Linked DNA regions of Homo sapiens. The protein of the gene in region 1 interacts with the protein of each later gene in a biochemical or structural test. Each region holds a gene or a part of one and is shown on either strand. Other genes may lie near its edges.

Region 1 (3,819 bases):
GCTACTTGGGAGGCTGAGGCAGGTGAATGGCATGAACCTGGGAGGTGGAGCTTGCAGTGAGCTGAGATCACACCACTGCACTTCAGCCTGGGTGATAGAGTGAGACTCCGTCTCAAAAAAAAACAAAAAAAAAACAAAAAAACTTTGTGTAGTTGTTATCAGAACCGTTATTGTACTAGGTATTCACTTTGGGCAAACAGAATTTTCACTTGTTAATATGCATATTCTATGGTTTATAGGCTTATATATTTTGTAAAGGTGTTTTGTTAAAATGACAATGTAACATTTATTCTGTTTGGTAATGGTTTTACTTATTAATTTTATAGAATTAACACTGAATCCTCCGGAAGGAATTGTAGCAGGTAAGGTACCAAAGTTAACTTCCTTATAATTTACTTTTAATTGCCAAAGTTCCTTCAAAGTTAAAATGTTGTGAAATTTTTTCTCACCCTACAGGCCCCATGAATGAAGAGAACTTTTTTGAATGGGAGGCATTGATCATGTAAGTTAATTTTAGGTGTACTAGTTTTTAGGGCTTTGCTGGAAGTCAGATGTAAGAATCACATCAGCAGTGTGACTGTGTCCAAAAGCATCAGCTGGAAAAAAGACTGAGTTCTCCAGTAATGCCCAGCTCTCGTCTAGGCTGCTGGTCTGAAAGCAGAGAACCTGAGCATTGATCCAAAAGAAATGAGTGTTTCCTTAGAGCCAGTCAAAGGTTTAGTTATAATTATGTAATATATGTATTATATATTTGAGAGTTTTAAGGTGGTAATTTTGGAATGTTGTATGATCGTGGTTAAAATAACCTCAAATGGCGTAGGTGGCTTTGGCTTCCAGAAGTAGCCCCTTCAGGTGTGAAATTTTGACGAGAAAAGGGTCCTCAAAGATGTGTCTGACCACACCAGGCATGTTAGCGCAGCCTTGCCTGCCCTGCCTTTGGGCCAGGACTTCTTTTTCTTCTCCTTTCCTCCCAGTTCGTATCTTCGTGTGCTGCATCTCCTTTTTCTGTTGCCTTGTCTGGACTTGTTGGCCTTGTGTTCTTTCCGACCCAAGACATGGCTTAGTAAGTGAGCAGTGTGGTTCTGGGATTCGTGGCATTTAACTTAGGGTGACGTTGCTTGGAAAGAGAAACACATGGACCCCTGATTTTAGAGTGTTCTATGGCCTTGACTCACTTTGCTTTTTCTTCTTTCTACCTTAGATGTGCAATTTTTGGCCATTCTTAGTGTATTTTCAGCAAAGTGAGGTTAAATAAAATTTAGGAAGTTGAAATTTGTAATCAGTCTCTGTTTTCTTTCTTTTCTTTTTCTTTCTTTCTTTTTTTTTTTTGAGATGGAGTTTCGCCCTTGTTGCCCAGGCTGGAGTGCGGTGGCACAACCTTGGCTCACTGCAACTCCTGCCCCTTGGGTTCAAGCGATTCTCCTGCCTCAGCCTCCCTAGTAGCTGGGATTACAGGTACCCACCACCGTGCCTGGCTAATTTTTGTATTTTTAGTAGAGACAGGGTTTCCCCATGTTGGCCAGGCTGGTCTCGAACTTCTGACCTCAGGTGTTCCGCCTGCCTTGGCCTCCCAGAGTGCTGGGATAACAGGTGTGAGCCACCGCGCCAAGCCCAGTCTTTGTTATCTCATTAGTGAGGTCTTTTAATTTGCAGCAAGGTCTTGGGTTGGATTTTGTTGCATTGAGAAGTGCTCTAGAGGGCAAGGACCGGAAAAGTGAGGGCTGTGAAACAAGTGTGGGCTCTGGCTTGAAGTGATCTTAAGCTTCATGATGCTTTTGGAATTCGCCAGTTGCTTGGATCACATTAATTCTTAATGCTCTATGGGTTGGTCTGAGAAACAGATTGCAGCTAAGTGTTGTCTGTGGAGGTTAAATTGATATGAAAATTAGTATTTTGGATAAACAAAATGTTTTTAAAAAATCATCAAACGCTATTCAGATGGTACAGCACGCCTGCCATTTCCTGATCATTTGTAATATCCTAATTGCTTGGGCCTATGGCACATGTTTTTTCGGTGTCTGAAGGTTTCTGGAATCTGTGTTTGTGTGTAATGTGGCCCCCAAGGCAGTTATGAGATGGATGGCGAGTCCCACAGTCTGGGCTGTCCTCATTAGTGGACTGTGCGGCTGTATACTTGTATCGGGGCAGCTCTTTTTATTTCTGTAGAAGCAGGAGATCATATACATGAACTGATGTGTAACCTGCTTGTTTCATGTGTTAATGCAGGCGCACCTGCACTCATGCCAGCGGGGCAGCACGCCTGCTGCAGGGGCCCAGAGTGGCGGGAGGCCTGTCTGTGTGTAGAGGTTGAAGGCGCCTGTCGTGTCTGCAGTTATTTGTGGGGTGTTGGCTCCTCCGTAGGCCTATTTGGAAGCTCATTAAAGGAACAGTTGAGCCGTCCAGTGTGGTTTTAAAAAAATGTTCATTGTTAAAAATCGATTAGGGTAACTATTACCAATTTTAAATAAACAGTGTAAAATTAAACCAATATTTTGAAAACCTGTCTTAAAAAGTAATTAGAACTATTTTTAGGTAGAGCACTTCTGTGTTTGAACAAGGCTTTTTGCATTAGTTTGGAATTCCCCTGCTTGAAGATCCTAGTGAGTTTGTGGGTTTTGGTCCTGTTCCAGACCCTTCACAAACAAGAGGCCGTTTACAAGTGCACTTAAAATGCCTATTAGGGAATTAACTGTCCTCCCATCGATTTGTCTCACCCTGCTATTTTGGCAGACATCTGGCCAAGTCTTTGCTCCTTGGTGATAAGTTTCTTCTTTTTCTCTTTATTCTTTGATGGCTTCCAGGGCCGCCTCTCTACCCTAGTATTTCTAAAACCCGTGCTTGCCTCACAGAAGTCGAACGGCTGTTGGTTTTTGCTGTTGTGCTTGCCTTAAGGGCCAGTGAAGAAAATGTCATTTTAGATATCTAAGCAACAAACACTAAGTGCCTTTGATATGTTAGGGCCCTTGTCTGAAGATACAGACATGTCAAAGATGCACTGAAATCTTTACCTTGGAAGACCAGGGTTGAGGGATTAGGATGGAGAATAGAACAGATTAGTGAATGAGAGGACTAAATAATGAGAGTCCGCAGGCTGTGTCTTTAAACACCGGGAATAACTCTGCTGACCCTGCCACGCTCATGGTGGAGTCTGAGCCTGCAATCAAATCGAGCGTGGCTGGGATGGCGGCACACCAGGGGATGTGGCCACCGTGGCTGTGGGTGCTAGCATGGCCTGCTGCTCTTGGCCCAGTCACTTTGCCTCTCTTTGACTTATTTGGATCAAAACAGAGAGGTTTATCAGCATCTTCTAGACAGATGGTTACAGGTCTTGCCCAGCTCTAGGGTCCATGGCCCGTGACCCCATTGCCACTAAGCCACGGTGACGGGGGTGTAGCTGCAGAGAGGGTGGGTGCCCTCTTTCATTGATGCACTTATGTGGGACAGAAGGAGTCCTAGACAGCTGTTCATCCCCAGTGGCCGGACAAGGCGTGGAGTCCCTTGGCGCTTGCTGTCCTCTGTGTCCTGCCCCAGCATTCCCAAATCAGCTGGCTTGGTGACCTTCTTGTCTGGTTCATGCCTGACTGCTGTCACCTCCCCAGACCAGTGGTTCTAGAGGCTGTGGTGAAATAAGAAGGACCTTCCTTTACTGAATGGTGTGTTTGGGGCCCAGTTGGTGGATGGATGCTCCCAGGTTCTCCAGCTGGCTCATGGCAGCCAGCTTGAGGGCTCCCAGGCTGCCGCGGCTTCTACCAGGAGCCCTTCTCACACTGGGGGCCAGTGTCCGGGGCACAGCAGCCTCCCTTTATGTCCAGGTTTCTT
Region 2 (3,819 bases), on another chromosome or scaffold:
GGTAAACAGCTCCATAAACATAGAAAAGTCTGTAGAATTAGGACATAAATGAGGGTTGAATTTTACATTTTAAGTCACTAATGATTTTAGTGATGGTAGTTTCAAAAGGATTTTCGCATCCATTTCTTCCTTTCTAATTTCTACCTTGCCAGTTCTGGCTCTCATTACCTCTTGCCTAAAATCCTAACTGGTCTTCTTACCTCCAGTTTCTCCCCTCCCCAATCCATCATCCTATAAAACGCTGCCTAATCAATCTTAAAATGCAGCTCACCTGCTCTAAAATCCCCACTGACCCACCACGACCTATAGAATTAAGCACCATATCTACTGTATGTATTCAGGATTCTTCACAAAAGCCCTATTCTACCTTACCAATATTACTTCTACTCCTCCTTTCATATCCTACACTCCAAAAAACAGTGGGCAGTCACTTCTCTTTCAGCAGAACCCACCCTGGAAAGCTTCTAAGTTTGAAGACACAATTACATTCCATTAAATACAAACTTTATTGCTCCCTCCCTTAATTTTTAAGCTCCTTAATTACAATTAGAAGACATAAAGGGGGAAAAACTCCCACTTACGATAGCAATAAAAAAGATAAAATACCTAGAAACAATAAATGTCAGGAGGCTGCGGCAGGAGGATCACTTGAGCCCAGGAGTTCCAGGCCAGCCTGGGCAACACAGCAAGAACCCATCCTCCCCACCTGCCCCCAAAATTAGTAATAATGCAATCTAAATTTTAAAAAAAATCAAATGGGTTGCTTTGTTTTTGGAATGAGACCTAGACAATTTTGAGACAATTCTTAAATTCACATAGAAAACTAACCATAAAAAAAAAGCTCAGAGGAGGAAATAAAGAAAACTGAAGGGACTAACCCTGTTAGACAGTAAAATATAATCTAAACCCTCAACAAATAAGACAGCGTGTTAATAGTTCACAAACAGGCAGACAGACTAAAGGAAGAGAAGTTCAAAAATGAAACAAAATATATGTGAGAATTCAGTATATAATGAGAAAAAAATGGACTAAATAGGTGAGGATGACTGTGTGGTTATCTAGAAAAAATAAAATTATACCTATAACACACTATTCATACAGATAAATGAAGCAAAGATTTAAATGTAAAAATAAACCCACAAAAATAGTAAGATAAAATACAACAGAATTCTTTATAAACTCAAGAATAAAGAAGGCTTTTCTAATTGACTCAAAATACTAAAGCTTAAAAACCTTCTAAATGTCAAAAAATCATAAGCAAAATCACTGAGTTGAAACTGGAAAAACTATTTTCAACTTATCACAAAGGATTAATTTCCCTAATGTATACCAAATTCCCACAAATTGGTAAAAAAAGAATCTCACAGAAAAGTGGGCAGGGTATATAAACTGACAACTCTCAGAAGAGAAAATACAGGTTTTTCTTAAGTATGTGTATGTTCAATTCATTCATAATAGAAATGCAAACTAAAACTACATTGAGTTAAAAAAATCAATTTTTCCACCTATTGGAGTAGCCAAAATATTTGTGGTAACAGGCTGTTTTGATAATATAGGATTGTAGGAACTCTCAACCACGGTTTTTGGAGGTACAAAATAGTAAAACCCTATGGAAAGTACTATCTGTCAACACTACAAATATATATAAGTTAACCCTTGAACAACATAGGATGGAACTGTGAGGGTCCACTTACATGTAGATTTTTTACAACCAAACTCTTATGGAATACAGTATTTGCAACATGCAAAACCCACGTATACAGAGGGCCAACCTTCTGCATACATAGTTCCACAGGGTCACTTGAGGGACCTGAGTATGCGCAGATTTTGGTATACGTGGGCATCCTGGAACCAACTTCCAGCATACACCGACGGACCACTGTACTCTTTAACCCAGCAACTTCGCTTCTAGTAACTTAGCCCCAGGTTATATTTGTACTTGTTGAAATTATAGCTATACAAAGTTATTTAGCACAACGCTGTACAAAATAGCAGAAGGTAGGCTATCTAAAATGTCCACCAATGGAGTAATTAGTTCAATAAATTATGGTATATCCATACGAAGATACTATGCCAACGTAAAATGCAATCGGGAAGAGGAGAAATGAGGCCTCGATATCTACTCAAGAGAGTCTTTAAGATCCGGCAGACTGTCATCATAAGAAAAAGAGCACAAAACTCTATTTCATAAATATCTAAAAGCAGTAGTTATGGCTCCACATACATCACAAACAAAAACCATGATTCAAAACCATGTATACCATGCTAACATCTGTATAAAAAGGGGGGAAATATACATTTTTTATATTTACTTATATATACATAAAAATATCTCTAGAATTATACAGAAAGAAATAAAAGCTACATGGTGTTCAGAGTGAGAACTCAGCGAATGAGTAACAGAGATGGGAGGGAGATACTTTTCATTAAATACTTTTTATGCTTTTTTATTTCTGAATGTAGATACATTATTTTATTAAGGTGAAATTTGATTTGTATTTGAGGGTGAAATTCTGTAAACAGGAGCATTACATAAACACTATGTAATATTTTGACAAAGGTAACTCCAACCAAAACATTGTTCAAGCTGAAAATATCTGTTCATGCAACCACTGAGCTTACTCTACTTTGGCATGGAGTAAGCATATTTAAGATGGCTCAACTAACTTTATAAAATTATAAACCAGATTATGAACTTCAATTGTACTCGAAAACATTCAATTTCTAAAATTAATATTCCTGGTTATCAGGCAGCTGTTTTTATAATAAATATTTCAACCTATTCAGAAACAATATATAAGCACATTTTTAAAACCACAGTATGTATGACTTTGCTGATTAATCTAAAAATCTAAGCCAAGTACCCAGTTGTTCTACAACTGACGGGAATTACTTTCCATAAATTGGCTAACATACAAAGCCTTTCATAAAAGGCTGAGAATTACAGTGTTTTGCAACATAAAGGAACTTTCCCATTTCAGAGACATTCCCAAGGTAGTGCTATCCACAAAAGATGAGTTTACTGAACCGAAACGTTTTGTTTCTAGTGCACCATCTCTTCTACTACATCATACTTCTTTCCACAACAGCTTACCTCTTAGGGATGTAAGGGGAACGTTCTCAGGGCTAAGTTTTAGAACCCAGAAAGTGATAAAAATAAATCTCAGAGAGACAGGACAACTCTTCATGACTTTATAAAAGATATATTTTGTGACAGGCAACTCTAATAATAAAATATTAGCAAAACCACTATAGTACCATTCAAACCATGTCTGGAACTCTGCAATCACAACATTAATAAAATATATTGCTATATACATTACAAATAAACCAAAACCTAAAAAGTAAGGATCATGATTTTTATTCTAGGTAAATTTTATCTGTTTCATGCTTGTATTTCTTGACTTTAATTTCTTCAATCTCTTATCATTATTTTTACCACTAACCCCATAGCATATCAATGATAGTTCCATTTTTCTTGAAAGGGGATTCAAGCAAAAAAAAAAAAAATTATAGTTCCAGGAGGATTTTTTTTATGGAACAAAGTATTATAGTATCATTTCCCAAATTTCATTTAACTGAACACTTTATCTTCAGCTGATGTTAATGTTTTCGTTTATCTCAGGGAACAATAAAGAATGTTGCATTTTAAAAAGCTTACTTTCTGAATTACTACCAAACCCCAAAACAAGGACAAATTAGAAGGGGCCAAATGTCTCTAAAAGTATTTCTCATTGTTTATATTTCATCATATTAAAATCTAGAATGTTTTCTTCTGCCTTCCAGTTTTATCCAGTAAAATAAATCCAATACTGCTTA

The links.
Region 2: the proteins of UBE2G2 (region 1) and RNF145 form a complex in vitro, tested with the Homo sapiens proteins (one study listed by BioGRID).

Annotation. Positions count from the first base shown.
Region 1 is NC_000021.9:44,784,603-44,788,421, reverse strand, and holds part of UBE2G2 (ubiquitin-conjugating enzyme E2 G2), read left to right. Parts: intron 1-326; coding exon 327-362; intron 363-456; coding exon 457-502; intron 503-3,819. UniProt on the Homo sapiens protein: Accepts ubiquitin from the E1 complex and catalyzes its covalent attachment to other proteins. In vitro catalyzes 'Lys-48'-linked polyubiquitination. Involved in endoplasmic reticulum-associated degradation (ERAD).
Region 2 is NC_000005.10:159,199,425-159,203,243, forward strand, and holds part of RNF145 (RING finger protein 145), read right to left. Parts: intron 1-3,819. UniProt on the Homo sapiens protein: E3 ubiquitin ligase that catalyzes the direct transfer of ubiquitin from E2 ubiquitin-conjugating enzyme to a specific substrate.